4 linked regions of the Homo sapiens genome follow. The protein of the gene in region 1 purifies or fractionates together with the protein of each later gene. This does not show direct contact. Each region holds a gene or a part of one and is shown in the gene's direction. Other genes may lie near its edges.

What was found.
Region 2: the proteins of CBX5 (region 1) and CHAMP1 purify together in Homo sapiens (affinity purification with mass spectrometry; 6 studies listed by BioGRID and IntAct, with this or other methods). This does not show direct contact.
Region 3: the proteins of CBX5 (region 1) and CHD4 purify together in Homo sapiens (affinity purification with mass spectrometry; 5 studies listed by BioGRID and IntAct, with this or other methods). This does not show direct contact.
Region 4: the proteins of CBX5 (region 1) and ZNF462 purify together in Homo sapiens (affinity purification with mass spectrometry; 4 studies listed by BioGRID and IntAct, with this or other methods). This does not show direct contact.

Annotation. Positions count from the first base shown.
Region 1 is NC_000012.12:54,230,425-54,235,135, reverse strand, and holds the end of CBX5 (chromobox protein homolog 5), read left to right. Parts: 3' UTR 1-4,194; downstream 4,195-4,711. UniProt on the Homo sapiens protein: Component of heterochromatin that recognizes and binds histone H3 tails methylated at 'Lys-9' (H3K9me), leading to epigenetic repression. In contrast, it is excluded from chromatin when 'Tyr-41' of histone H3 is phosphorylated (H3Y41ph).
Region 2 is NC_000013.11:114,309,975-114,317,502, forward strand, and holds the start of CHAMP1 (chromosome alignment-maintaining phosphoprotein 1), read left to right. Parts: upstream 1-4,528; 5' UTR 4,529-4,669; intron 4,670-7,528. UniProt on the Homo sapiens protein: Required for proper alignment of chromosomes at metaphase and their accurate segregation during mitosis. Involved in the maintenance of spindle microtubules attachment to the kinetochore during sister chromatid biorientation.
Region 3 is NC_000012.12:6,576,380-6,583,409, reverse strand, and holds part of CHD4 (chromodomain-helicase-DNA-binding protein 4), read left to right. Parts: exon of another isoform or gene 1-31; coding exon 32-212; exon of another isoform or gene 213-296; coding exon 297-383; exon of another isoform or gene 384-473; coding exon 474-562; exon of another isoform or gene 563-661; coding exon 662-795; intron 796-1,128; coding exon 1,129-1,273; intron 1,274-1,595; coding exon 1,596-1,761; intron 1,762-1,800; exon of another isoform or gene 1,801-1,937; intron 1,938-2,021; coding exon 2,022-2,119; intron 2,120-2,236; coding exon 2,237-2,366; coding exon of another isoform or gene 2,367-2,372; intron 2,373-4,492; coding exon 4,493-4,564; intron 4,565-4,688; exon of another isoform or gene 4,689-4,857; intron 4,858-4,863; coding exon 4,864-5,001; intron 5,002-5,272; coding exon 5,273-5,381; intron 5,382-5,492; coding exon 5,493-5,625; intron 5,626-7,030. UniProt on the Homo sapiens protein: ATP-dependent chromatin-remodeling factor that binds and distorts nucleosomal DNA. Acts as a component of the histone deacetylase NuRD complex which participates in the remodeling of chromatin.
Region 4 is NC_000009.12:106,929,140-106,936,169, forward strand, and holds part of ZNF462 (zinc finger protein 462), read left to right. Parts: coding exon 1-620; intron 621-1,385; coding exon 1,386-1,550; intron 1,551-3,123; coding exon of another isoform or gene 3,124-3,306; coding exon 3,307-3,410; intron 3,411-6,363; coding exon 6,364-6,482; intron 6,483-7,030. UniProt on the Homo sapiens protein: Zinc finger nuclear factor involved in transcription by regulating chromatin structure and organization. Involved in the pluripotency and differentiation of embryonic stem cells by regulating SOX2, POU5F1/OCT4, and NANOG.

The DNA of each region.
Region 1 (4,711 bases):
ATAATTGAGAGTTGACTAACTTTGGAAGTCAGAATTCCCAGGAATTAGAGTAACTGCTCTGGAAAGTTAAAGTGTGAAGTTTTTTAGATAGTTTCATAAAAACAATTCTGGTTTCTTTTTGCTTGTGCTGACTTTCTTGGATTTTAATCTACCTCATCTTGTCTTTTTAGAGTTACTTCAACTTGTCACTTTAACATTGTGCTTGACTTTGGTTGTTTTCTAAGATGGAATTTTTCCTGTTCATTGACAGCTTGTTCTCTTGCCTTTTCATTCTGATCCTCATTTCATCTAACATCATCTCATATTGCTCCTCTGTCAAGAGAAATGTTTTAAAATAGTTTAAAGTCTTGTTTTATGGGAAGAAAGTGATCCTCCAATGCTATTTGTTTCTGAGGTCAGTAAGAGAAGGAGTTAAAACAAGGCAGTGGGGAAGGGAATGAATCCTGCACTGGAGGCAAAAGCTGACAAGGAAAGAGCCATTAATTAAGACAATTTCAAAGTCAACTGATTGTGATCATTAATGTCACAATAGATCAAAACCTAATTATCACAGCCTAGGTAAGAGCCATCAGTATTAATCGGAAAATCTAATAGGAAACTATTATCAAGAAATTAGGCCAAATTGAATGCAGTGAACTTTTTATCTTGGCATTCTCTATTTTTTTGTGATGTCCCCTGGCATTGGCAGGTGTGACCCTAACAGTCGATTCAAGGCCAAGTGGTCAGTTTGTCAGCCTTTTTTAAGGGATTTCTTTTTATTTTTAGGAATTCCAAACAGAGTTAACCTAAACTGTCATTGCCAAAAGATCAGTCTTAAACTTTCTTAGCACCTGTACCTGTTTAATGTGATCAGCTATCAGTGAGGAAAAAAAAAAAAATCTATTTAGGTCTTGGAATGGTTCCTGTACCTAGAGTATCCATATTGAACCTTTTTTTTTTTTTTTTTTTTTTTTTTTTGAGATGGAAACTTGCTCTTTTGCCCAGGCTGGAGTGCAGTGGCGTGATCTTGGCTCACTGCAACCTCCGCCTCCCGGGTTCAAGCAGTTCTCTGCCTCAGCCTCCTGAGCAGCTGGGATTATAGGCGCCTGCCACCATGCCCGGCTAATTTTTGTATTTTTAGTAGAGACAGGGTTCACCATCTTGGCCGTGCTGGTCTTGAACTCCTGACCTTGTGATCCGCCTGCCTCGGCCACTCAAAGTGCTGGGATTGCAGGCGTGAGCCAGCACCCGGCCACAGTATCTTTATTACAGCTCACTGCAGCCTCAATCTCCTGGGCTCAAATGATCCTCCTGCCTCAGCCTCCCAAGCAGCTGGGACTACAGGCGCACACCACGGTGTCTGGCTAATTTTATTATTTAAAAAATGTTTTGTAGAGACAGTCTCCCTGTGTTGCCCAGGCTGGTCTCCAACTCGTGAGCTCAAGTGATCCACGTGCCTCAGCCTCCCAAAGTGCTGGGATTACAAGCATAAGCCACCGCACCCGGCCCCTAGTGAACATTTTACTGTATGTGTTGATAAATCATCTTTTGAGTTTCTGTTGTATGTGGGGACTTCCTACACTGGCTGCTGTGAAGAGGTATGGAAGAAAGGAGAGGCTTTCTGCCTAGAAATTCTTTGAGAACACCTGAAAAGACAGTTTAATCATGTCACAACACTCTTAAGGCTCAAGTCAGTGTTCTGGTTTCCGGTAGCTTTAGGATTGGATTCTAAACGAGGGCTGGTGGTGAGTTTGGTGTTTGTCTCGTGTCACCCTCACCCCTCACCTCCTCAGTTTAGGATAAGAGACATAATGATTTCTACCAGAATCCAAAGTAAATCCAAAGGGGGAGAAAAGACATAACTGTTTTTTCTTCTACCTTTTTTTTGTTAAAGAGTTACATCTCTCACAGGAGGAAAGAATTCAAGAGTCTATATGATTAGTTACAGAGAATATTTTCATCCCCTCTCCCTGAATAGAAAAGCAGGGGTCACCATTTGTATCCTTACCCTTGAGGTGTTTTTGAAGATGCTGTAACTCTTGAAGTTGAGCTGAGGCAGAAAGGTTGGAAAAATGCAGCCCTCTGGGTATTGTGGGGAGGGATGTGATGTAGTAAGAGGGTGTTTTGTGGTGCTAGGATTCCCACGCCACCAACTTGCAGCTTTATAAGAGCGCTACCAAGAACCACCACTGGGGAAAAGGTTCTTATTCATTGTTTCTGTTGGAATGTGATCTTGCTTTCTGGATTTTAGGAATTCAGGTTACTCAGTATAAAACTCTGAGAAATCAGTGTGACTTAGTCCTTCACCTCCTAAGATAAAGTGAATATTTCTTTACAAAATAATTCATGTCCTTAATGTTAAAGATGTAATTTTATTTTCAAAACATCTATAACATGACTTTCAGAAGCAGTTCATTTTTCCAAGATTCCTCACATTATACTAGATAAATAATAGGCCCTCAGTTAATACCCTTCAGTTATTGAATTAATCTAGTTTGTGGAATGAGGTGTATCCTGCCAACTTCCCTCTGCTCCCAAGTACACTCTGAGAGGTAAAATGCTCTGGGAAATGGAACAAGAATCGAGTGGATGCTGACTCTGTGTGCCCACCTCCTCAACTGATTGATAATGGTTGACCTTGGGCAAGTCACTTCTTTCAATGCCTCAGTTCCCCATCTGTCAAATGGGGTTAATAATACTGACCTACCTCACAGGGGTGTTGTTGTGAGGCATTGTAAATCAAAGTTAATAGAATACTTCAGGGTCCTCTGTGGAGGATGTCTTGAGCCAGAGTTTAAGCCTGACACACAGGCTTTGGTCCTCACTGAGCTGTCTCCAAGACTGGAACTACTTAGTGACTCGGCAAATTTTCTGCCCCCCACCCCTCATCAAAGCTGCTAGTTCAGATGTTGACAGTGTTTTCATGAATGTTGGAATCTTACTAGTCCAGACTTACTTAGGATGTTGTTGGGGAAGGCACTTGGGATTTTCTGTGTCTTGCATTCACAGAGGGAGGCCATTTCAGATTCAAGAGCATTGGATTAGGGAATCGTGAGGCAGGGATGCTACTGCGTATTTCTCTCTGCAGGTTGGGGATTAAAGTTCCTTTCCCCATGGGTTTGAAGCAGACTCAGACTGTCTCAGGATCAAAGCAACCCTCAATGGTTTTGATTTATGTCATTGCTTACCACTCCCCAACCAATCCCAGGACAGCTGGGTCACTGTACCCCTTTGTGGTATCTGTACCTGGGCCTCTCCTTCCTCATAGGGACCAGCTGATTGAATAAATGTGACCACCTTATTTCCACCCCCCACCCCCAAAAGCTACATTGGAATTATTTTTCCTAGAAATGTGTATAACACTCAGAATTGGGCATTGATCCTTAAAGCTTCATCCCATTCACCGTATTCAACATCTGTCATCTCTTAGTGTCTGCAGTCTGAACCTAACCTTGACCTTTTTTCCCTCTGGTTTGAGAAAACTTTGGACACTATTTCTACTTGGCCAGGTGTGGGCTCAAGAGCCTTACTCTTTCCATCTCAGTTTAGGGGCGCAGCCAGCTCCTCTTCCCAATAGGGCTCTTTCTGCTTTCCCTCTCCTTGGCCCTAGATTTGTAATCCATGAAAAAGCACAAGGTCCTGGCTCCTTGCGGTCACATTCTGGTTCTCTGTGTTTTGTGGACTCTGCTCTCACTGTTCACCCAGCACTAGCAGTACCAGATGGTTCTGTGGAGTCCTGGGGAATGGAGAGAGCACAGTCTGACTCCCTGCCAAGTAGCCAGGAGTTGACTTGCCCATGGTCCGCTGGCTTTCCCACCACTTCCTACAGGATGGGATCTAAGAGACTCAAGAGCTGGGTTTCTTTCAGCACTCTGTACTGTCCCAAATAGCAAACAAATCACTTTGTAGCCAGATTTCTGAATGGAAATGAGAAATTGAATTCTCCATGGACTTTTAGGTTTATGGGGGAGTTTTAGCTGTGTTTCTTGGTTTTATTTCAGCCAAACATGTCTGCTTTTGATTTTTTTTTTAAAGTATAAGTGGTCTATATATATGTTCACCTTTTAAATGTAAATGTTTAAAAAGTAAGCATTTATGTGTTTCCATAACTGACATCTGATGCAGACCTCATTCTCTCCCCCTCTTCTACCCTCCTCTTTTCCCCCTTTTCATACTCTTGTATTGGTTCTAATAAATGGTTGCTTTTCAAATATGGATTCTGAGTGGTGGTTTAAAGATCTGGGTCTTATGCCCCTTCTTTAATTTGGGCCCTGGAGTGTCAGCTCAATTTCTGAAAGAGCAACAAGACTTGGAGAACATGGGCTTCTTTTCTAAGGATTATTGGTCTCTGACTTTCTGCAAATAACCACAGGTTGGCGCAAGCCTGAGGAAATAAGATAATGCGTATCCTGTTTCCTACTCTTATTTCCTTAACTGGTTCAGTGTGTACCTTTCCTGGTTTCCATGCTCTTCTCTGCTCCTAATGGTTCAGAGAATAAATATTAGGCTTCAGCAACCTAGGGATCCCTGGAAGAGTCATCTCATGGCTATTAGAACTTATGGAATACCACATCAAGCAAATGCAGTCTAAATCAGGTTTGAAAATATGTGAATTTGTAAACTTTGTATTTTATCTTTCTGATTTGCTTCACAAATACCAAAGAAACTTCTCTGAGGATGGAAGGCTTGCAGGTCAGGAACATGGTGTGAGGTCAGTTGGAAGTTAGGAGGA
Region 2 (7,528 bases), on another chromosome or scaffold:
CCACAAGCAGTATCCAGGGCCAGGCTGGTTTCTATGCTCACCACTCCTGCTTTTTTTTTTCTTCAACCAGCAGAGCAGGTGACCATAGTTCTTGGGCAGCCTGCTTGAAACAAAGTGCCCTCTGCTGCTCTTTTCATGAAGAGTGTAGCAGGATTGATTGAGGCTGGCTTTGCACTTACACGGTAAACTGGCCATATGAGAACTTAGCTGCTCTGCCGGCCAGCACCAGGCTCCCAGTTGCCTTTCACTCGCTCACTGGCGCTCAACTAGCATTGATTGAGTGCCTGCAATGCAGCAGTCAGTGCCCATCTGCCACCCCTGGCAGCTGTGTGGACCTAGACTGCCCTTCAGCAAAGTCTGCTGCTCTGCCTGAGAGGAAAGGAAGAGCCCCATGCCCACCAGCAAAGGCTTCTGGGGCCTGGGCATCCTCTCCTCCCTCCAAAACTGGGGCTAGTGAATGGTTAAAAAAAAAAATTAAGAAAATATTAATGGACTTGATTCTAATTTTTATATTTGATTTTTATTTTTCAGTCCTATTTAAAAAAATGTCTAAAACTCGGAAATAAGGCAAAAAAGAGTGATTGCATGGCTGTGTCATGTCTGACAAGCTCCGATTATTTAACAGTTGACCCACATTTGTGCCCACACTGTGACATCACATGTTTCCTTACGGATTTTTGCCCAGTAGAGATGTGAGTGATTTCTATAACATGGCCTCAAAGGTGGCAGTTGTGCTTCCCTGTAGGATCCTAACCACTTTTGTTTCTAACTGGCCATTTGACTCCACTTTTTCTAGTGGCTGCACGTACTCAGCTTTATGAACCTTCTGAACTAGCTTCATCCTCCTCTGGATTCCCTCATGAATGAGTTAAATAAATCCTCTGAGATTGAGACCGTCCTGGCCAACATGGTGAAACCCTATCTCTACCAAAAATACAAAAATTAGCTGGGCGTGGTGGCAAGTGCCTGTAGTCCCAGCTACTCATGAGGCTGAGGCAGGAGAATCACTTGAACCCGGGAGGTGGAGGTTGCAGTGAGTAGAGATCGCACCACTGCACTCCAGCCTGCCGACAGAGCAAGACTCCGTCTCAAAAAAAAATACAAAATAAAATAAATCCTCTGATATGTGTTCACTTTATATTCGTGTGAGTCATGTGTTTAACTTTTGAGAACTATACTTTGACATTCCCCAAAGCCCAGCAACAGAGCTAGATACTCAGGAGGAATTCCATTTTATCATACTTCCCATTAAGTAACTTATTTTAGTTCCCATTATTTTGCATTATTATAAATTAAGTAGAAATAGCAGAATAATTTGTCCTTTTTTATTATAAAGTAGCTAAGTTGATTATATTAGATCTAAATTATAAGCTGGACTGCTTTTATTATTTCTCTTACAGGAAGCACTTAATAATTTATTTCTAATTTTTATTATGTTCCTTGTAATACATATTAATGCAGCAATTTGAATGGAAAAATTAAGTCTGACTTTCTGACAGAAAGCCAGTCTGATTTTGGCTGCTTCATTTGACAACATGATTCTGTGTAGGTTTTGAATATGTGCAGATACTCAGCACTGTTATTCTTTATACACAGAAGACAAATGACAAAGTCCAGTGCCATCTCAGCTAATGAGTTTGCAGCTCCTCAAAGGCTGTCAGGCTGCCACTTTCTACTGCAATTGTAGTTCACCTGCCTCTACCCATTCCCTGATTCAAGTCTGGTCCCTGGAACATAGTATAGGTTGAGAAAACATCAAAATAAACTGTTGAGAAGTATATGTTCAATAGATCCTTAAGTGAAATTTTGAAAGTCCATAAGGGTCTGGTTTTAGTACAGGATTTTATGAGAGTTATTTCTGCTTTCTTTGGTTACTTTAAAGTTTAGTGCAATATACTGGGAACCTTTCAAAAGGCCAAATTGGGAGTTTATTTGCATTATTCATCTTGAACTATTTAATATTCTATAACTACAATAGCTTTTTTAACATGATTTCAATTCAGAATAATAGCAGAGGGTGTTTTGGTTTTTGTTATTTCGTCACCAAGAGTTGCCTTCTGCTAGAGTTTTGTTCAGTGTTCAATTGGAATAGGTCTCTTGGGATCATCAACTCATTCTGACACTTCAGGAAAAAACAACTGAAGCAGCCATTCAAATTAGGTCCTGCAGCCACAACGAACCTGTTTCATATTAAGAGTCAGGATCTCAAAAAGTTCTCAATCAGTAAATCTTTGCTATTCAGAGAAAATAAAAGATCCTCTCATTTCTGCATTTAACATTTACAGTTTACAAACTGTTTTCATTGGCTCTTTTAAAAGCTTGTAACTAGGTGGATACTTTTTAAAGAAATCTATTAAATTTAATGAATCAATTTTGCTGCAAAAACAAAACTTAGAAAAATCCTAAAATATTTAATATTGATATTTGAATCCTAGAAATCAGAATCATTCCGGAAATTAACACAGGATCCTAAATTTTGCATGAAAGGGAGGTAGAGCCAGGCGCTGTGGCTCACGCCTGTAATCCCAGCACTTTGGGAGGCTGAGACGGGCGGATCACGAGGTCAGGAGATCGAGACCATCCTGGCTAACACGGTGAAACCCCGTCTCTACTAAAAAAATACAAAAAAATTAGCCGGGCGTGGTGGCGGGAGCCTGTAGTCCCAGCTACTCGGGAGACTGAGGCAGGAGAATGGCATGAACCCGGGAGGCGGAGCTTGCAGTAAGCCGAGATGGCGCCACTGCACTCTAGCCTGGGCGACAGAGCGAGACTCTGTCTCAAAAAAAAAAAAAAAAAAAAAAGAAAAGAAAAGAAAAGAAAAAAATGTAAACACAATATAGCAACTTTTGTGATACAGCAAAAGCAATGCTAAAGGGGGAGTTTATAGCTATAAATACATCAAAAACCAAGAAAATCTCAAATTAACAACCTAACTTTACAACTTAATGAACTATAAAAAGAAAAACTAAATCCAAAGCTGGCAAAAAGAAGGAAATAATAAAGATTAAAGCCAAGATAAATGAAATAGAAAATAGAAAACGATAGAGAAAATCAATGAAACCAAAAATTGGTTCTTTGAAAATGTCAAAGCATTATTCACAATATCTTGAATAGGGAAGCAAGCCAAGTGTCCATCAACAGGTGAGTGGATAAGCAAAATGTGGCATATCCATACAATGGGATAGTATTCAGTGTTAAAAAGGAAGGAAATTCCACAATGTGCTACAACATGGATGAACCTTGAGGATGTTCTGCTAAGTAAAATAAGTCAGTCACAAGACAAATACTGTATGATTCCACTCTTATGAGTAGTCAGACTCAGAGACACAGGAAGTAAGATGGTGACTGCCAGAAAGTAGAAGGTAGAGGGGAACCGAGAGTTAACATGTAATGCATAGTTTGTTTTTCAAGATGAAAGAGGTACAGAGATGGATGGTGGTGTTATGAATATACTTACCACCACTGAGCTGTACACGTAAAGATAGTTAAGACGGTAAATTCTATGGATTTTATTTTTATTTTTTTGAGACAGAGTCTCACTCTCTCCCCCAGGCTGGAGTGCAGTGGCGCGATCTCGCTGTAACCTCCGCCTCCCCGGTTCTATGGGATTCTCCTGCCTCAGCCTCCCTAGTAGCTGGGGTTACACGCGCCCGCCACCACGCCTGGCTAATATTGTATTTTTAGCAGAGACAAGGTTTCACCAGGTTGGACAGGCTGGTCTCGAACTCCTGACCTCAGATGATTCACCTGCCTAGGCCTCTCAAAGTGCTGGGATTACAAGCGTGAGCCACCGCGCCCGGCCATTCTATAGTTCATTTTCACCACAAAAACAAAAATGAAATTCACAACAAGCAAAACTTCAGAAGGGTACAAAGGTAGAGAGCAGTGTGAGCTAATTTTACAGTCTTTCAAAGCATACAGACTGATGGCATCAGCATTAGAGGTGCATGCATTTTAATTAGAATTGTGGTGGTAACATTCATAAAACTGAAAACAAAAAACGAAGAAGATAACTTCTGGGAATCGGGACTTTCAGTGGAGGCGGGGTGATGAGAAAAGGAATATTTACTGTCATCCAACAACTTTGTCTTGTACTTTTGTCATAGGTATTATGCCAGTAATATCCCTGAGAATGTATGGGGCAGGTCTAGCTCTTTTTTTCCTAATAAATTCATTCACACAACAATCAAAACAGCAAGAAAAGGAAGAGATATCCGCACGGCGGCGGCAGGCCGGGGCCGTTCCAAGGGCCTGGCCGGAGGCCACAGGCCAGACGCGGCGGAACCCTCCCGGAGCCGCGCCCGGGCGCGCGCGGGAAGCGGAGGCGGAGTGGGCACGTGCGGCACTTCCGGGGCGGGGCGGGCACGCAGCCCTTCCGAAGGCCCGCGCGAGCCGCTAGTTTTGCCCACGCACTTTTGGCACAGCCGCGCCACGCGATCGGCGATCTGATTGGCCCGCGCGGGAGGGCGCGCGGCGCCAAACTTGCTTCCCGTCAGCCCCCGCCCGTCCCGCGGGAGCGCGCACGCTCGCGCACCCGGATCCCGGCTCCTGCATCCAGTCGCCATTCGGGAGGCCGCTGCGCTGCAGGGCCTCGCGGAGCCGCCCGCGACCGCGAGCCGGGCCCTCCGCGCGGTCCATCGCCCACTGGACGCCGCCCGCGGCCGGACCGGTGAGGAGCGAGAGCGAGCGGGGGAGGGGCGTGGTTGGGGCCTGCATCCCCGAGCCCCGTGTCGGCCGCCGACCTGGCGGGGACGGTCCCGGGAAGCCGCGGGTCCGAGTGAAGGGGGCCTGCGCTGCCTCGCTTCCCACACGGCCCGAGGGAAGGGCCCGCCCCCACAGGCCGGGGCGGGAGTGCGTCTTTGTGCAGGGAGCGGGGAGGCCCGGTGTCAGTCGCTGCCGAGGCTGGAAACATTGCGTTTGAAACCATTGGGAAGTTGAGGGCGGCACAAGACGAAAGCCATTCTTTCTGTTTTAGTTCTAGACTGCCTCCTCTTCTGTCATTATTACTGTTTAAAAATCCGCTATACAGCCTCCAAAGTGGGAGAGGACATTTGTAAACCTGATAAAGAGTTAATGTCTAGAATACAAGAAGAGATGCAACTGACCAACAAAAAGCAACCCAGTTCAAGAATGGGCAAGGAATTTGAATAGATATTTCTCCAGAGAAGAGAGACAAATGGCCAATAAGCACGTGCAGTGATGCTCAACATCACTAACCATTAAGGAAATGCAGATGAAAACCACAATGAGATACCACCTCACACCTGTTAGGGTGGCTATTAAAAAAAAGGGAAATTATGAGTGTTGGGGATGTGGAGAAATTGAAGCTCGGGTGCATTGCTGGTGGGAAAGTAGGGTGGTGCAGCAGCTATGGAAATTGGTAGTCGTTCCTCAGTTCTAGGTTTATACCCCCAAAAATTGACAGCAGAGACTCAGATACTTGTTCACAAATGTTCATCGCAGCATTATTCAAAATCCAGATGTCTATCAACATGTGGATGAAAGGCAAGCTGTGGTATATACATATAATGAATGGACCATTGTTCATCTTTAGAAAGGAATGAAATTCTGATACATGCTGCAATATAAACGAACACATTATACAGTATAAACGAGCACATTGAACACATTATGTTGAGTGAAATAAGACACAAAAAAGACATACTGTATGATTCCCCCTCAGGCACAGAATTGAGATTACCAGCACTGAAAGTGGAGAGTGGAAGTTACTGTTTCATGGGTACAGAATTTCTGTTTGTGGTGAAGAAGTTCTGGAAGTGGATAGTGGTGATGTTTGCACAACGTTTTAGTACTAAACTAACTAAATTGTGCTTTTAAAAATGATTAAATGGCAAGTTTTGTTTTTTTTTTTTTTTTTGAGACGGGAGTTTCGCTCTCGTTGCCCAGGCTGGAGTGCAATGGCCCGACCTTGGCTCACTGCAACCTCCGCCCCCTGGGTTCAAGGGATTCTTTTGCCTCATTCTCCCAAGTAGCTGGCATTACAGGCGCTTGCCACCACACCTGGCTAATTTTGTATTTTTAGTAGAGATAGGGTTTCTCCATGTTGGTCAGGCTGGTTTCGAACTCCTGACCTCAGGTGATCCACCCGCCTCGGCCTTCCAAAGTGCTGAAATTACAGGCATGAACCACCATGTCCGGCCTAAATGGCAAGTTTTTTGTTTTTATTTTTGTTTTTGTTTTTTAATGAGCCAGAGTTTCACTTTTGTTGCCTGGGCTGGAGTGCAGTTATGCGATCTTGGCCCACTGCAGCCTCCGTCTCTCGGATTTAAGCGATTCTCCTGCCTCAGCCTCCCAAGTAGCTGGGATTACAGGCGCCTGCCACCACACCCGGCTAATTTTGTATTTTTAGTAGAGACGAGGTTTCTCCACGTTGGTTAGGCTGCTCTCTGACTTTCAACCTTAGGTGATCCGCCCACCTTGGCCTCCCAAAGTGCTGGGATTACAGGCGTGAGCCTGTGGTGGCGCGCGCCTGTAGTCCCAGCTACTGGGGAGGCTGAGGCAGGAGAATCGCTTGAACCTGGGAGGTGGAGATTGCAGTGAGCCGAGATTGCGCCATTACACTCCAGCCTGGGTGACAGAGCGAGACTCCCTCTCAAAAAAAAATAAATAAATAAAAATGACTCCTTGTGTAAACTATAGACTACTTAATAAATCAGTATTAGCTTATCATTGTAGCAGATATCTCACACTAATGCAAGATGTTAATACAGGTGAAGTATCCTTCATTCGAAATGCTTGGAACCAGAAGTGCTTTGGATTTTTTTTTTTTTTTTTGGATTTTGGAATAGTTGCATTGTACTTACTGGTTAAACATCCGTAATCTGAAATCTAAAATGCTCCTTTTGGCACTCAAAAAGTTTTGGATGTTGGAGCATAATCAGATTTCAGATTTTCAGATTAGGGATGCTCAGCCTGTAGTAGGAAAAACTGGGGACAAGAAGATAGGTGGGAATTCTTGTACATTCCCTTCAGTTTTTCTTCAAACATAAAACTACTTGGAAAATTAGTTTATTAATTTCTTTCTTTTTTGGGTTGGGGGTGAGTATGGAGTCTTACTCTGTTGCCCAGCTGGAGTGCAGTGGCTCAGTCTTGGGTCACTGCAACCTCCGTCTCCCGGGTTCAAGCGATTCTCCTGCCTCAGCCTCCCAGGTAGCTGGGATTATAGGTATGCACCACCACGCCCAGCTAATTTTTGTATTTTTAGTAGAGACAGGGTTTCACCATGTTGGCTGTTGGCCAGGCTGGTCACGAACTCCTGTCCTCAAATGATCCGCCTGCCTTGGCCTCCCAAAGTGTTGGGATTACAGGTGTGAGCCACTGCGCCCGCCCAGTTTATTAATTTCTTAAAGGCCAGGCATGGTAGCTCACACCTGTAATCCCAGCACTTTGAGAGGCCAAGGCAACAAGATCTCTGGAGGCCAGGAGTTCAGGACCAGCCTGGACAACATAGTGAGACCTCATCGCTACAGAAAAAAAAAATTAGCCAGATGTGGTGGCAGGTACCTAT
Region 3 (7,030 bases), about 48 Mb from region 1:
CTCCTGAGTCCTGGCCCTCCCTCTGTCCCAGGAGGAAGAGGAGGTAGAACGGGAAATCATTAAACAGGAAGAAAGTGTGGATCCTGACTACTGGGAGAAATTGCTGCGGCACCATTATGAGCAGCAGCAAGAAGATCTAGCCCGAAATCTGGGCAAAGGAAAAAGAATCCGTAAACAGGTCAACTACAATGATGGCTCCCAGGAGGACCGAGGTGTGTGTGGCCGGCCCCGCCCCCCACCCATGGGCCGTTCCACTAGAGCAGTGGGCCCCGCTCATCTGCCCTCTCTCCCTCCAGATTGGCAGGACGACCAGTCCGACAACCAGTCCGATTACTCAGTGGCTTCAGAGGAAGGTGATGAAGACTTTGATGAACGTTCAGAAGGTGAGGGCTGTGCTTTTTTTGTTGCTTTTCTAAATGTTGCTTTGTTTAATATCCTACCTGTGTCACTCATTCATCTTTTTCTTCTTGCAGCTCCCCGTAGGCCCAGTCGTAAGGGCCTGCGGAATGATAAAGATAAGCCATTGCCTCCTCTGTTGGCCCGTGTTGGTGGGAATATTGAAGTAAGTGCCATACGATTCTAAGGAGGGGTGAGTGTCAGATATTGCATCTTTGGTGGAATGCGACCTGCTGCCTCTCACCTGGGTTTCTTCTTCCCCTAGGTACTTGGTTTTAATGCTCGTCAGCGAAAAGCCTTTCTTAATGCAATTATGCGATATGGTATGCCACCTCAGGATGCTTTTACTACCCAGTGGCTTGTAAGAGACCTGCGAGGCAAATCAGAGAAAGAGTTCAAGTGAGTTGAGGGCTGGAGTGGACTGATCTAGAGCAAGGGCTTCTGCTATCTATCTGGTCATTCCATGGTTCTAGGCCTAGCCGTGCAGGGAAGTGGGCTATTTTCTCTGTTGAAGTTGGCAGGTGAAGCTGTTAGTAATGTGTTCCTAGCTTCCCTGGAAGAGAACCTGGGTCTTCTTGTGGGGTCTAGAGATCAGCCTTCCCGTGCAGTGGTGGGCTTTACCTCAAGGTGGAGCCATAGTTATTGCCTGTGATAATGCCTCACGAAGGGATGGAAAAGAATCTAAGAGTCAGCATGATCCCTATTTAACTCTTTCTCTACTTCTTTACACAGGGCATATGTCTCTCTTTTCATGCGGCATTTATGTGAGCCGGGGGCAGATGGGGCTGAGACCTTTGCTGATGGTGTCCCCCGAGAAGGCCTGTCTCGCCAGCATGTCCTTACTAGAATTGGTGTTATGTCTTTGATTCGCAAGAAGGTGAGCCCTGAGCCTCTTGCCATTGTTTCTAGGGGGCCAGGCGCAGTGGCTCACACCTGTAATCCCAGCACTTTGGGAGGCTGAGGCGGGTGGATCACTTGAGGTCAGGAGTTAGAGACTAGCCTGGTCAACATGGCGAAACCCCATCTCTACTAAAAATACAAAAATTAGCTGCACGTGGTGGCGGGCACCTGTATTCCCAGCTACTCAGAAGGCTGAGGCAGGAGAATTGCTTGAACCCGGGAGGCGGAGACTGGAAGGCCAATAGGAAAGGAGCCTGTAGCTGGAATTGGGTCTTCAACTTCTTGTCCCATTGCTACAGGTTCAGGAGTTTGAACATGTTAATGGGCGCTGGAGCATGCCTGAACTGGCTGAGGTGGAGGAAAACAAGAAGATGTCCCAGCCAGGGTCACCCTCCCCAAAAACTCCTACACCCTCCACTCCAGGGGACACGCAGCCCAACACTCCTGCACCTGTCCCACCTGCTGGTAAGTCTGCCTGTCCTATCATTTTCTGTCCCTCTCTTTTTGTCCTGGCCTATTTTTCTGCTCCCCTGTGCTCAGTTCTAACAGGGTAGTCTGGCAGGACACACAGCAATTCCCTCTCAGTTTAGGAGGGCCGTCCTAAGAATAGGGCTGGCTCTTAAAGGCACGAGAGGACAATTTAAGATGAGACAAACTGGGAAGAAATGACCTTCTCTCTGATCTAGTACCTTCTTCCTAATTGATTGTCTTTTATTGTTCTGCAGAAGATGGGATAAAAATAGAGGAAAATAGCCTCAAAGAAGAAGAGAGCATAGAAGGAGAAAAGGAGGTTAAATCTACAGCCCCTGAGACTGCCATTGAGGTAAGAGATGGGGTGACTGAATGCCATACTAAAGACAAATGTGTAAGTCCAGTCTTCCTTTTAGTTGCTGGCCTGTCTGCTTCATCTGTTTTGTTTTTGTTTTTTTTTCCTTTGAAGTGTACACAGGCCCCTGCCCCTGCCTCAGAGGATGAAAAGGTCGTTGTTGAACCCCCTGAGGGAGAGGAGAAAGTGGAAAAGGCAGAGGTGAAGGAGAGAACAGAGGAACCTATGGAGACAGAGCCCAAAGGTAAAGGTATCCACATTTTTTTTGTTTGTTTGTTTGTTTTGAGACAGTGTAGTGCTGCCGCCAGGCTGGAGTGCTGTGGCGCGATCTTGGCTTACTGCAACCTCCACCTCCCAGGTTCGAGCGATTCTCCTGCCTCACCCTCCCGAGGAGCTGGGATTACAGACAGACGCCATCATGCCCAGCTAATTTTTGTATTTTTAGTAGAGACAGGGTTTCACCATGTTGGCCAGGCTGGTCTAAATCTCCTGACCTCATGATCCACCTGCTTTTGCCTCCCAGATTGCTGGGATTACAGGCATGAGCCACTGTGCCTGGCTTTTTTTTTTTTTTTTTTTTTTTCAAAGGAGTTTTACTCGTTGCCCAGGCTGGAGTGCAATGGTGCGATCTCGGCTTACTGCAACCTCCGCCTCCTGAGTTCAAGCGATTCTCCTGCCTCAGCCTCCTGAGTAGCTGGGATTACAGGCATGTACCACCATGCTCAGCTAATTTTGTATTTTTTAGTAGAGAGGGGGTTTCTCCATATTGGTCAGGCCAGTCTCCAACTCCTAACCTCAGGTGATCCACCTGCCTTGGCCTCTCAAGGTGCTGGGATTACAGGCGTGAGCTACCATGCCTGGCCGGTATCCATATTAAGCACTACAGATCCCTGTGTGAACCATGGTCACTCGTGAATTTTTGCTGGGGCTGTAGAGATATCAGGAGGAAGCGACACACTGAAGAATCCTGCACCCTTGATTTTAGGTGGCAGGTTTTCCCCTAACTTAAGGTATCTCTTATGACTTTATTTGTTGTTGTTGTTGTTGTTGTTGTTGTTTTCGAGATGGAGTCTCACTCTGTCACCCAGGCAGGAGTGCAGTGGCACGATCTCTGCTCACTGCAACTCCCGCCTCCTGGGTTCAAGCGATTCTCCTGCCTCAGCCTCTGAGTAGCTGGGATTGCAGGCGTGCCACAACCATGCCCACGTAATTTTTTTTTTTTTTTTTTTTTTGAGACGGAGTCTCGCTTTGTCGCCCAGGCTTGAGTGCAGTGGCGCCATCTCGGCTCACTGCAAACTCCGCCTCCCGGGTTCACACCATTCTCCTGCCTCAGCCTCCTGAGTAGCTGGGACTACAGGCGCCTGCCACCATGCCCGGCTAATTTTTTGTATTTTTAGTAGAGACGGGGTTTCACCGTGTTAGCTAGGATGGTCTCCACCTCCTGACCTCGTGATCCGCCCGCTTTGGCCTCCCAAAGTGCGGGGATTACAGGCGTGAGCCACCACGCCTGGCCAAAATTTTTTTTTTTTTTTTTTTTGAGACGGAGTCTTACTCTGTCACCCAGGCTGGAGTGCAGTGGCACGATCTTGGCTCACTGCAACCTCCGCCTCCTGGGTTCAAGTGATTCTCCTGCCTCAGTCTGCTGAGTAGCCACCATGCCTGGCTAATTGTTTTTTTTGTTGTTGTTTTTTTTTTTTTTGAGATGGAGTCTTGCTCCGTCGCCCAGGCTGATGTGCAGTGCAGTGGTGTGATCTTGGCTCACTGCAACCTCCACCTCCTGGGTTCAAACAATTCTCCTGCCTCAGCCTCCTGAGTAGCTGGGATTACAGGCATGCGCCACCACGCCCGGCTAATTTTTGTATTTTAGTAGAGATGGGGTTTCACCATGTTGGCCAGGCTGGTCATGAACTCCTGACCTCAAGAGATCCACCCATCTCGGCCTCCCATAGTGCTGGGATTACAGGTGTGAGCCACCACGCCTGGCTAATTTTTGTACTTTTAGTAGAGACAGGGTTTCACCATGTTGGCCAGGCTGGTTTCTAACTCCTCACCTCAGGTGATCCACCCACCTTGGCCTCCCCAAGTGCTGGGATTACAGGCATGAGCCACCGCACCCAGCTAATTTTTGTATTTTTAATAGAGATTGGGGTTCACCTTGTTGGCCAGGCTGGTCTTGAACTCCTGACCTCAAGTGATCTGCCTGCTGCTGTCTCCCAAGATGCTGGGATTACAGGCATGAGCCACCATGCCCAGCTGACATTACTGTAATTGCAGACATTTAGATGTGGGTCTATCCAATTGGATAATAGTGTGCAACAGAGGAGAATGTTCTTCCTTTAGGTATAGTCTCAATAACATTTCTTCCCCTAGGTGCTGCTGATGTAGAGAAGGTGGAGGAAAAGTCAGCAATAGATCTGACCCCTATTGTGGTAGAAGACAAAGGTGGGTGTTTGGAGAAGTTGATTGTGGTTCAGAAGAACTCTAAAACCAGAAGCAAGGACTGTATCTGCCCTGCCTCCCTGTCCATACTCATCTAGCCATTTTATCCCAAGATAAAAGACTGTACCTGTCCCCACATTTAGTTGTCAGTGGGCCAATGGCACCATTTTCTGGGTCTGAGAGACACCCAGGTGGAGAAGGGGTGTAGGTGGATGGATTCTTGTAGCATACAGTGTTCTGGGTAAGGGCGATGGTGCTGGGCTTTGGCTGGAGCTGACATTTTTCTTCCCCATATTCTGTAGAAGAGAAGAAAGAAGAAGAAGAGAAAAAAGAGGTGATGCTTCAGAATGGAGAGACCCCCAAGGACCTGAATGATGAGAAACAGAAGAAAAATATTAAACAACGTTTCATGTTTAACATTGCAGATGGTGGTTTTACTGGTATGGAAATGAGGGGCCCACCAGGGTTAGAAGGATCTGATGTGAAATTGGGGTTCTTGTCAGAAACCACGGTACAGGGACTTTACCTCTTTACCTCTGTTTGATGAGGGAATGCCAAACTGATAGTGGGTTCTGTGGAGAAAGCCAGAAGCAAATTATATGAAATGGATCCAGGGGTAGGGGATGGTGGGGGACAAGAATAAGTAGCTTTTTCAATTCTCACAGATGTTTGCTTCCCCCCACCCCCAACCTTCCCTAAATTCCTCCTCAGAGTTGCACTCCCTTTGGCAGAATGAAGAGCGGGCAGCCACAGTTACCAAGAAGACTTATGAGATCTGGCATCGACGGCATGACTACTGGCTGCTAGCCGGCATTATAAAGTATCCTTTGCCTGAATCTGTACTGAGGCTTTTGGTGAAAGGTTCTGAAGGTCTTTTAGTTTGAGGTTCTTACTTTCCTTGTTTTGTTTTTCCTGAGCACTTTTCCAATAGCCATGGCTATGCCCGGTGGCAAGACATCCAGAATGACCCACGCTATGCCATCCTCAATGAGCCTTTCAAGGGTGAAATGAACCGTGGCAATTTCTTAGAGATCAAGAATAAATTTCTAGCTCGAAGGTTTAAGGTGAGCGGTTGGGGAGGAATATATTGCTTAAGTGACAAACTTGAAAGTGCGTAACGTCCTGCAGCAGAGGGAGTCTGTCCATCCAGCGCACTGTTCTCACTTTCTTCATTCTATGGAAGGCTTTGCTCCCAAGTAACTTACACATTAGGGTTGAAGACACACAGAATTGAAAGTTAACTAACTGTACATGAGCTGTAGGTGACTATGTGTCCAATCAGTGACACACTAGTGCAGAGGGGTTTGTTTGGGGAACACTGCAGATTGGAGTATTCAGGAAAGATATAGAGGTGGGATTGAATTGCATCTCTGAAGATGTAGAGCTATTAGTCAGTGGGCTGCTGGTTGTTTTTTTTTTTTTTTTTTTTTTGAGGCAGAATCTCTGTCGCCCAGGCTGGAATGCAGTGATGCAGCCTCTGCTCACTACAACCTCTGTGTCCTGGGTTTAAGTGATTCTCCCGCCTCAGCCTCCTGAGTAGCTGAGATTACAGGCGCCTGCCACCACACCCAGCTGTTTTTTTTGGATTTTTAGTAGAGATGGGGTTTCACCATGTTGGCTAGGCTGGTCTCAAACTCCTGACCTCGAAGTGATCCACCTGCCTTGGCCACCCAGATTGCTGGGATTATAGGCATGAGCCACCATGCCTGGCCTGGTTCTTTTTTCTGGGCTAAAAAGTGCCTGTGTGGGCCAGGTGCGGTGGCTCACGCCTGTAATCCCAGCACTTTGGGAGGCTGATGCAGGAGAATCGCTTGAAGTCGGGAGGTAGAGATTTCAGTGAGCTGAGATCGTGCTACGGCACTCCAGCCTGTGCAACAGAGTGAGACTCTGTCTCAAAAAAAAAAAAAGACGTGTCTGTTGTCTCGTACGCTGAGTATAATCGGGGAAGAAATGGTACACTAATAAGCCTTCAGGTATTATGTACTAAGCAATGATGTGCCCAGGGATAAAAAGACAAAGCATGGTATCTGTTTTCAAGGAGCTTTCAGTTTCAAGTAGGAGCACATGTGTAATCAAATGAATGCCATTCTGCATATCAGGAGAGAGATTGCTGATTGGCATAAGAAAGTTCTCCAGAATCGCTTGAACCCGGGAGGCGGAGGTTGCAGTGAGCCGAGATCGCACCACTGCACTCCAGTCTGGCGACAGAGCGAGACTCACCTCAAAAAAGACAAGAAAAGAAAGTTCTCAGAGAGGCAGACACAGTGGCTAATCTCAGCATTTAAAAGAGCTGATTGCTTGAGTCCAGGAGTTCAAGACTAGCTCGGGCAACATGGCAAAACCCCATGTCTACAAAAAATACAAAAATTAGCCAGTTCTGGTGGCGTGCACCTGTAGTTCCAGCTACTTAGGAGGCTGCAATGAGCCTAGATTGTGCCATTGCACTCCAGCCTAGGCATTGGAGTGAGA
Region 4 (7,030 bases), on another chromosome or scaffold:
TGATCATCCCATCCCCGCCCAAGGACGACTCCCCTCAGCTGAGCGAGGAACTCCGGCGGGCAGTGGAGAAGAAAAAGTGCTCCTTGTGCTCTTTCCAGTCGTTCAGCAAGAAGGGCATCGTGTCCCATTACATGAAACGCCACCCAGGGGTGTTCCCAAAGAAGCAGCACGCCAGCAAGTTGGGGGGCTACTTCACGGCCGTCTATGCAGATGAGCATGAGAAGCCCACACTGATGGAAGAAGAGGAGAGAGGCAACTTTGAGAAAGCCGAGGTGGAGGGTGAAGCTCAGGAAATCGAGTGGCTCCCATTCCGCTGCATCAAATGCTTCAAGCTGTCCTTTAGCACTGCAGAGCTGCTGTGCATGCATTACACTGACCACCACAGTCGGGACCTAAAGAGGGACTTCATCATTCTGGGCAACGGCCCCCGCTTGCAGAACTCCACCTACCAGTGTAAGCACTGTGATAGCAAACTGCAAAGCACAGCCGAGCTGACCTCACACTTGAACATTCACAATGAGGAATTCCAGAAGCGTGCCAAACGTCAGGAGAGGAGGAAACAGCTTTTGAGCAAGCAGAAATATGCAGATGGTGCTTTTGCAGATTTCAAACAAGAGAGGGTAAGGATATGTTTTGATTTCCCTTCCCCCAGGAGGCCTCTCATCACTGGTGCCCACATGCACTTCTTCGTTGCCAGCCAAACTGCTGCAGGCTTCCTAGTGACTTAGCTTGCCAGAGAGCTCAATAAGTCAATTAAACATTTCGAGCTTGATTATCTCCCATTCTGTGCTCACCCCTCTCCTTGGTCCCTTCTCCTCCCTCCTTCCCTTTGACTCCTCCCATGGCTCCCCAGGGGAGGTTTGGGGTGGTTTCTATGTATGTCTTTCTGCCAAGTAGCTTTATCTGAAGCCTAGTTTTACAACAACGCTCGCTCTTTCCTAAGGCAGTGTGGGCTGTCTCTTGGTACCATTAGCACTTCTCAGCCATGTCTTGGTCTTCAGTGTTTGCTACATGAACCTAACGTCTCCAGGAGTAGATTTTATTTTATCAAGAAGTTCATTAATGGCGCAACTATGCAACGTTTCACCTGCCTAGTTGAAACTGGTTTGAAAACCAGATGACTTAGTGGCAGTGACGATGAGCTTCTGCACAGAAATCTTCTCTACTCACAAGCCGTAATGTATTTGGGTTTCAAAGACTTTGCATAGTAGGCAGCGTGCCATGATGCTGACAAATTTGTTATATAAAAATACTCGCCTATATCTCCCTTGGTTTTTAACCTGCTAATCGGCTTTAAAATAAAGTATGTTAGTAAACTGCAAGAATAAATTCTGACAATTGAGGGAGGGCTCGGAGTACTGATGGCTACCACTGTATTTTACCAGCCTTTTGGTCACTTAGAAGAGGTGCCAAAGATCAAGGAGAGGAAAGTGGTGGGCTACAAATGTAAATTCTGTGTGGAAGTGCACCCAACGCTCCGAGCCATCTGCAATCACCTCCGAAAGCACGTCCAGTATGGCAATGTCCCAGCTGTGTCAGCTGCTGTGAAGGTGAGAACTGGAAGGTCTGGATGAGCATTGTGTGTGAGCGATTCGAGTTACTTATTAACCCCATTGCCTAAAGCAGCTCAGGAAAGAGCATCTCAGAATGCGGGCATTCCTGAATTATGCTTGGATTGGTTTGGCTTGTTTTGATTTCTTTGCAGGTTGGACCTTCCTCATCTTTCTGTTCAGGGAAAGGTCGAGTTTCGATCTGGTTTCCTTCCACGCGGATAGTTTGGTGGCAGCAGAAGGTCCAGGATTCTCGGTCTAGGAGGCTTCGGGTCGTCCTTCTATTCTGCGTTTAGTGCCATTAGCTCTTCGTTCTTCCAAGTTGCCCGAGCTCTTGAGAGGAATCAAGTGGGTTCTGTTCCCATCATCTTCTGCTCCTCTTTCTTCCTGACTTCTTACTGTTCTCATCTGGCTGAGGATGCAGAGAGCCTAGGAGAATCTCTTTGTCTTCTTATCCTGGGTCCTCTGGGGACTGCAAGAGACATTAAAACTAAAAGCGTTCAAGTCGCAATTGACCCTGAAAGCCTTGGTTTGTCTCCTCCATCCCCTCTCCCATATGATGCTGACAAGTGTCTTCCCTTTTCCCTCTGACTTTTATTAGGCCACCTGTTTTGAACATCATAATCCTAATAGCAGCCACCATGTCAGTAACCAAGCCACCATCCCCGTCTTCCAGGATATTGCTAAGCCCTATTATTTATTAAAACAGAAGTCATTTTGGGGTTCTGCCCTTTCTCTAAGGGTACACGCGAACATATTTTTGTCATCTGCCCTTCTTGAGCTTACATCCTATTTTGCCAATTTAACATGAAGATAAAGTCTCTACTTTTCTTCACTGAAGACTGAAGCTTTCTGTCTTTTGGCAGAACAGTGGCAACCCAGGGATATCAGCAGTCACTTTCTTTCAGACACCACTGCGGTGTGTCCCAGGCTCGTTTCCTGGGATCATGTGAGAGAGACAGAAGGGCTTTTCCTGTGTAATCAGTAACCCAAGGAGCTATCTCGAAAAACAGGTGACTTAAAACTAGGCTGCTCCTTAATTTTTTGAATTGATTATGCAGCAGTCTCCAGTCATAGAGTGAAGTCACCATCTACAGGGTAGGGGGCAGACAGCGGGATCTTTTGCTTTGCTTCCTTTCCAGATAATGGCCCAAGGCTCCTCAATGACCATACTACTTTGCTTTTCTTTCTCTTCCTTTCTTCCTCTCCTTTCTGTGAGCCACAACCCTAGCCCAACTTTATGTCAACTTAGATGGGGTTGCAGTTTGAATTTTCTTTTAAGATGGGGAAGAAGTGAGTGAAGTGTCTTCAGAGTGGGAGAAGCCCTTGTTCACATTTCGCAAACAGTAGCAACCTGTGTCCGGGTATGTTGTCCTAAAATCACCTCCACTGCATGAAGAATGGCAGTTGGGCTTGCTCTCCCTCTAGGGGTAGCTGGAGAGGCAGGGGAGGAAGCTTTGACAAGAAGTGCTGTTGAGTTTGGGAGAATGTAGGGAGAAAAAGAAAGCTGGAGGCAATGATGATGGATATTTATTTTGTTGGTGGGGCATGTGTGTGTGTGTGGTTCTCTTAGCAGGAGGCGGATGACCCTGCCCACTTGTTCCTGGATGGATTGGAAGCAGCCAAAGACGCCAGTGGCGCCCTGGTGGGCCGGGTGGATGGTGAACACTGCTTGCTTGATGGAATGTTGGAGGATGAAACCCGGCCGGGGGGATACCATTGCAGTCAATGTGACAGAGTCCTGATGTCCATGCAGGGGCTGCGTTCTCATGAGAGGAGCCACCTGGCCCTGGCCATGTTTACCCGCGAGGACAAGTACAGCTGCCAGTATTGCTCGTTTGTTTCTGCTTTCAGGCACAAGTAAGTGCTATTGGGGGGTCACTAGTGGTTACTGGGAGATGATGTCATAGTGGAAGGCACTAAGCTAAAGCAGAAGCTTGGATGAGTAAGAAGGCCCCACTCATGGTTCACACCTGCTGCTATGTTACCTGGAGCCTCAGTCACCTTTTCTGTAAAATGGGGCTGAGAACAGGAGATTGATCGGATGGCGTTAGATTTGGCAAATGCAGGCATTTTAAAAATGAGAATTGGAGGAATTGCTATGATTTACCCAAAGGTAAAATGGCATCTGTGGAGAGTAGATGAGTCTCCTGATTCATCGTTCAAACATTCAGCCAAAATCTAGTCATTGTTTGAGGAAGTAAAGTCCATTTAGAAAACTGAGTTGCTAAAGAGGTAAAATTAGGACTATTAACCCATGTGACCAAAGAAACATTGCTTGCAATTTTTCAAAAGATCTTGAAAGGTAAAGAAGTTCATGGATGCCAAAGAGTTGCTTGACATACAGGGAGATTGAGGAGAGGGAGCTTCCCATTACTCATCACAGCTTTGAAAGTGTAAATATGGAATAGGTGTGTAAGGCTTTTTGGGGCCATGGAAAGAGGGGTGGTTTTAAGAACAACTTTTTGTTGCCTTTCTCTTTCAGCCGTGTAAAAGAGAGATAAATATTCAATAATGCGTTTGGACAGTCTTGGATAAAGGTGACTAAGACTGACATGCTTTTTAAAACAATTTTTTTAATGAAATAAATGATGGACTATTTGCTTCTTACAAAAGATAAAGGGCCAGTTAGTGGTTGTTGAACAGAAGAAGGAGGTGGTGTTTTCACAGAGGTTAGGATGGGTTGTAAACACTTTATTATTATACAGAGCCTAATATCTAATCTTTGTCATCAGATCCATACATTGGCATAAAACTTGAAATACTTCAATTCAAGAAGTATTTATTGAACAGCATCTATCACATTGTCTGACGCACAGTGGAACTTTAAATAATTGTGAATAAATGAATATATCCTGTCCTAGGTACTGTACTTTTGGGAAATATAAAGACACAGGCCATGGTCTGTGGCCAGGGGAATTTAGGGTCAAGGGTTGGTTTATGAAATTAAAAAAAAACAAAACAAAACCCACTGACTCATCAAAATAAAGCACGTCTTTGAAAATATCAGTAAAATACTATGATGTGTCAAAGAAGAGAAATGTTACATCAGCTTTGGAAGAGTCAGGAAGGTTTTATGGCATAAGGAGCATTTGGGTGAAGTCTTAAAGTAGGAAAATAGGACTTGAATAGTTTGGAAAGGACATATGATGTAGAGGAAAAGCTGAGGGAGGAGACCATGAAGCTGACTGGGGCCCTAGCTGGGGGTTCAGTTTGACTAATCCTTAAGTTACATGTAAAGGAATAGTGAAAGATAAGGTCTAAATACTTTAAAGGAGACCATATTTGGAGTTTTAAATGCCAGGAAATAGTATTTCATAATTTAAATTGCTGGTAAAAGGAAGAGTCAAATTAGCAAAATAATTATAATTGCTAACATTTATTGCATCTCACTATATACCAGGCACTGTACTAAGGGCCTTTAAATATTACTTAATTTCATTCTCAAAACTCTCCTATAAGGTATGGCCCCATTATTATCATCTTATGAATAAGAAGAGTAAAGCCTAGAAAAATTAAGTAATTTGCCCAAGGACACACAGCCTATATGTAATGGCTGAGATTTTATCCCAGGTAGTCTGACTCCATAGCGTGTGCTCTTGAGATGAAAAAAAAAAAAAAAAAATCCATGGGGGCTGGGGGACAAGGAATTAAGAAGCAATAATAGTAGCTAGTTCAAGAAGTTAGGGAATGATTGAAGGAATGGATTTGCCTGACTTGGAAAAATTGACTTCATGCGTGGGATGAGGGACAAAGTAAAATACAAATGGCAACTAGGTTTTCAGTTTACTCATCTGGAAGAAAGGTTAGTGCCATTTATAGAAACAAGGAAATGAAGAAGAGAATTTGTTTTGTAGAAAACTCTCTGATGGGTTTGTTTAGAACAGGTTGAGTTAAAGAGAACTAAAGGACACCCAGAGGGAGCTGTCCAGGGGCAATTGAAAATGTTGCTTTGGAGCTCAGGACAGCATTATATGTTGAAATGGTAAGCAGTACCGTTCCCACATGAGGCATTTAGAAGGGAATTTAGTTCTCTGGAGTGCTGATACAAATTAGAACTTCCCACACCTTGTTTGGTAGATTTATTATTTTTTTAGGCTAATAATTATTATGAAGTACTAGGGGTTCGTTGTAATTAAATAACTCCCTTGTAAATTGCTTCTGGAAGACTTACAGCAAACATGGTTGTGTGTATCAGAAGGGATGTGCGGCCTTTTGACCACGTGGCTCCTTTAAACATGCATGCACTGTGCCTCCATATTAATATAGACCCTGGCAACAAGACAGCCCATTGCAAGAAGGTCAGCCACTTCGAAACCTCCCTTCCTCACTCTAGTGTTCACAATGAAAGTAGAATTAGAATTCAAAAAGAAAGTCAGCTCTTTTCAAATGCTAAATTTCTCTAATTCCCATTCTGTTATTTGAATAAGTTAGAGGACTAATTGATAGGCACTCTCACTGGCTTGGCAGGAAGCTTGAATTCACCCATATTGTACCTTCTCTTTAGATACACTCTTCCAATGATCAGAGCTCTAAGAAGGGACAATAAAGATTCTTACCATGACCTGTTACCACTGCCATATCTCTAAATCCAAAAAAAACTCTTGATCTCTTCCTTTAGCTTCCTGTCCTCTTAGAGTAGGTACAACTCTTGAAAATTAATTAATTAAATTGATAAATGCCATTATTGGAAAGTAAACAAAAGGACTTTGAACGACCTAGAAGTAGGATTCCTGGAAAAAAAGCAATGAGCAAATCCTCTATGCAATTTTTAATTTTGTCATTTTTCTTTTTGTTTTCCTTCTACATCAAGTTTGGATCGCCATATGCAAACCCACCACGGACACCATAAACCATTCCGATGCAAACTCTGCTCCTTCAAGTCCTCCTATAACAGCCGGCTGAAAACACATATACTCAAAGCTCATGCTGGTGAGTTGTGCATTGATGATGCACAAGTTCTTTAGCACTCTCTGAGTTTGAAACCTGATGATCTTTATTGAGTGAAATACTGTCCTGCCTTACACTTGAGAATGTTATTCTTGGGATGGATGTATATTCAGTTTTATTTTTACCTAGTAAAGAAAAAATAAAGAAAAAAGTAAAAGTTAAACAAAATCACCTAAATCCAAAATAATACAAAGCCTATGTCACCCATGTTATGGTTAGTTCGTTCGTCCTACTGACAAGTTAGAATTAGACTGTTGGTGATTTTTACAGAAATTTCTAAACTGCCTATACTTTCTAATTCAATTGCCAAGAATTGTTATATCTATTAAAAAGACTTTCCAGCTAAAATAAAGTTACCAACTTAAGGAAGTTAGAAAGGGCAAAGGGAACTCAAGATGTGTGAGATTTTTCAAGAGATACCCTTAGATATGTTTCCGTACATAAGACAGAAATGACTTTGGGTTGTGAGTGTCCAGCAGCTGTGCTGGTCTCTATCATATTGTTGTTCCATCTCATTACTCATTAGAAAA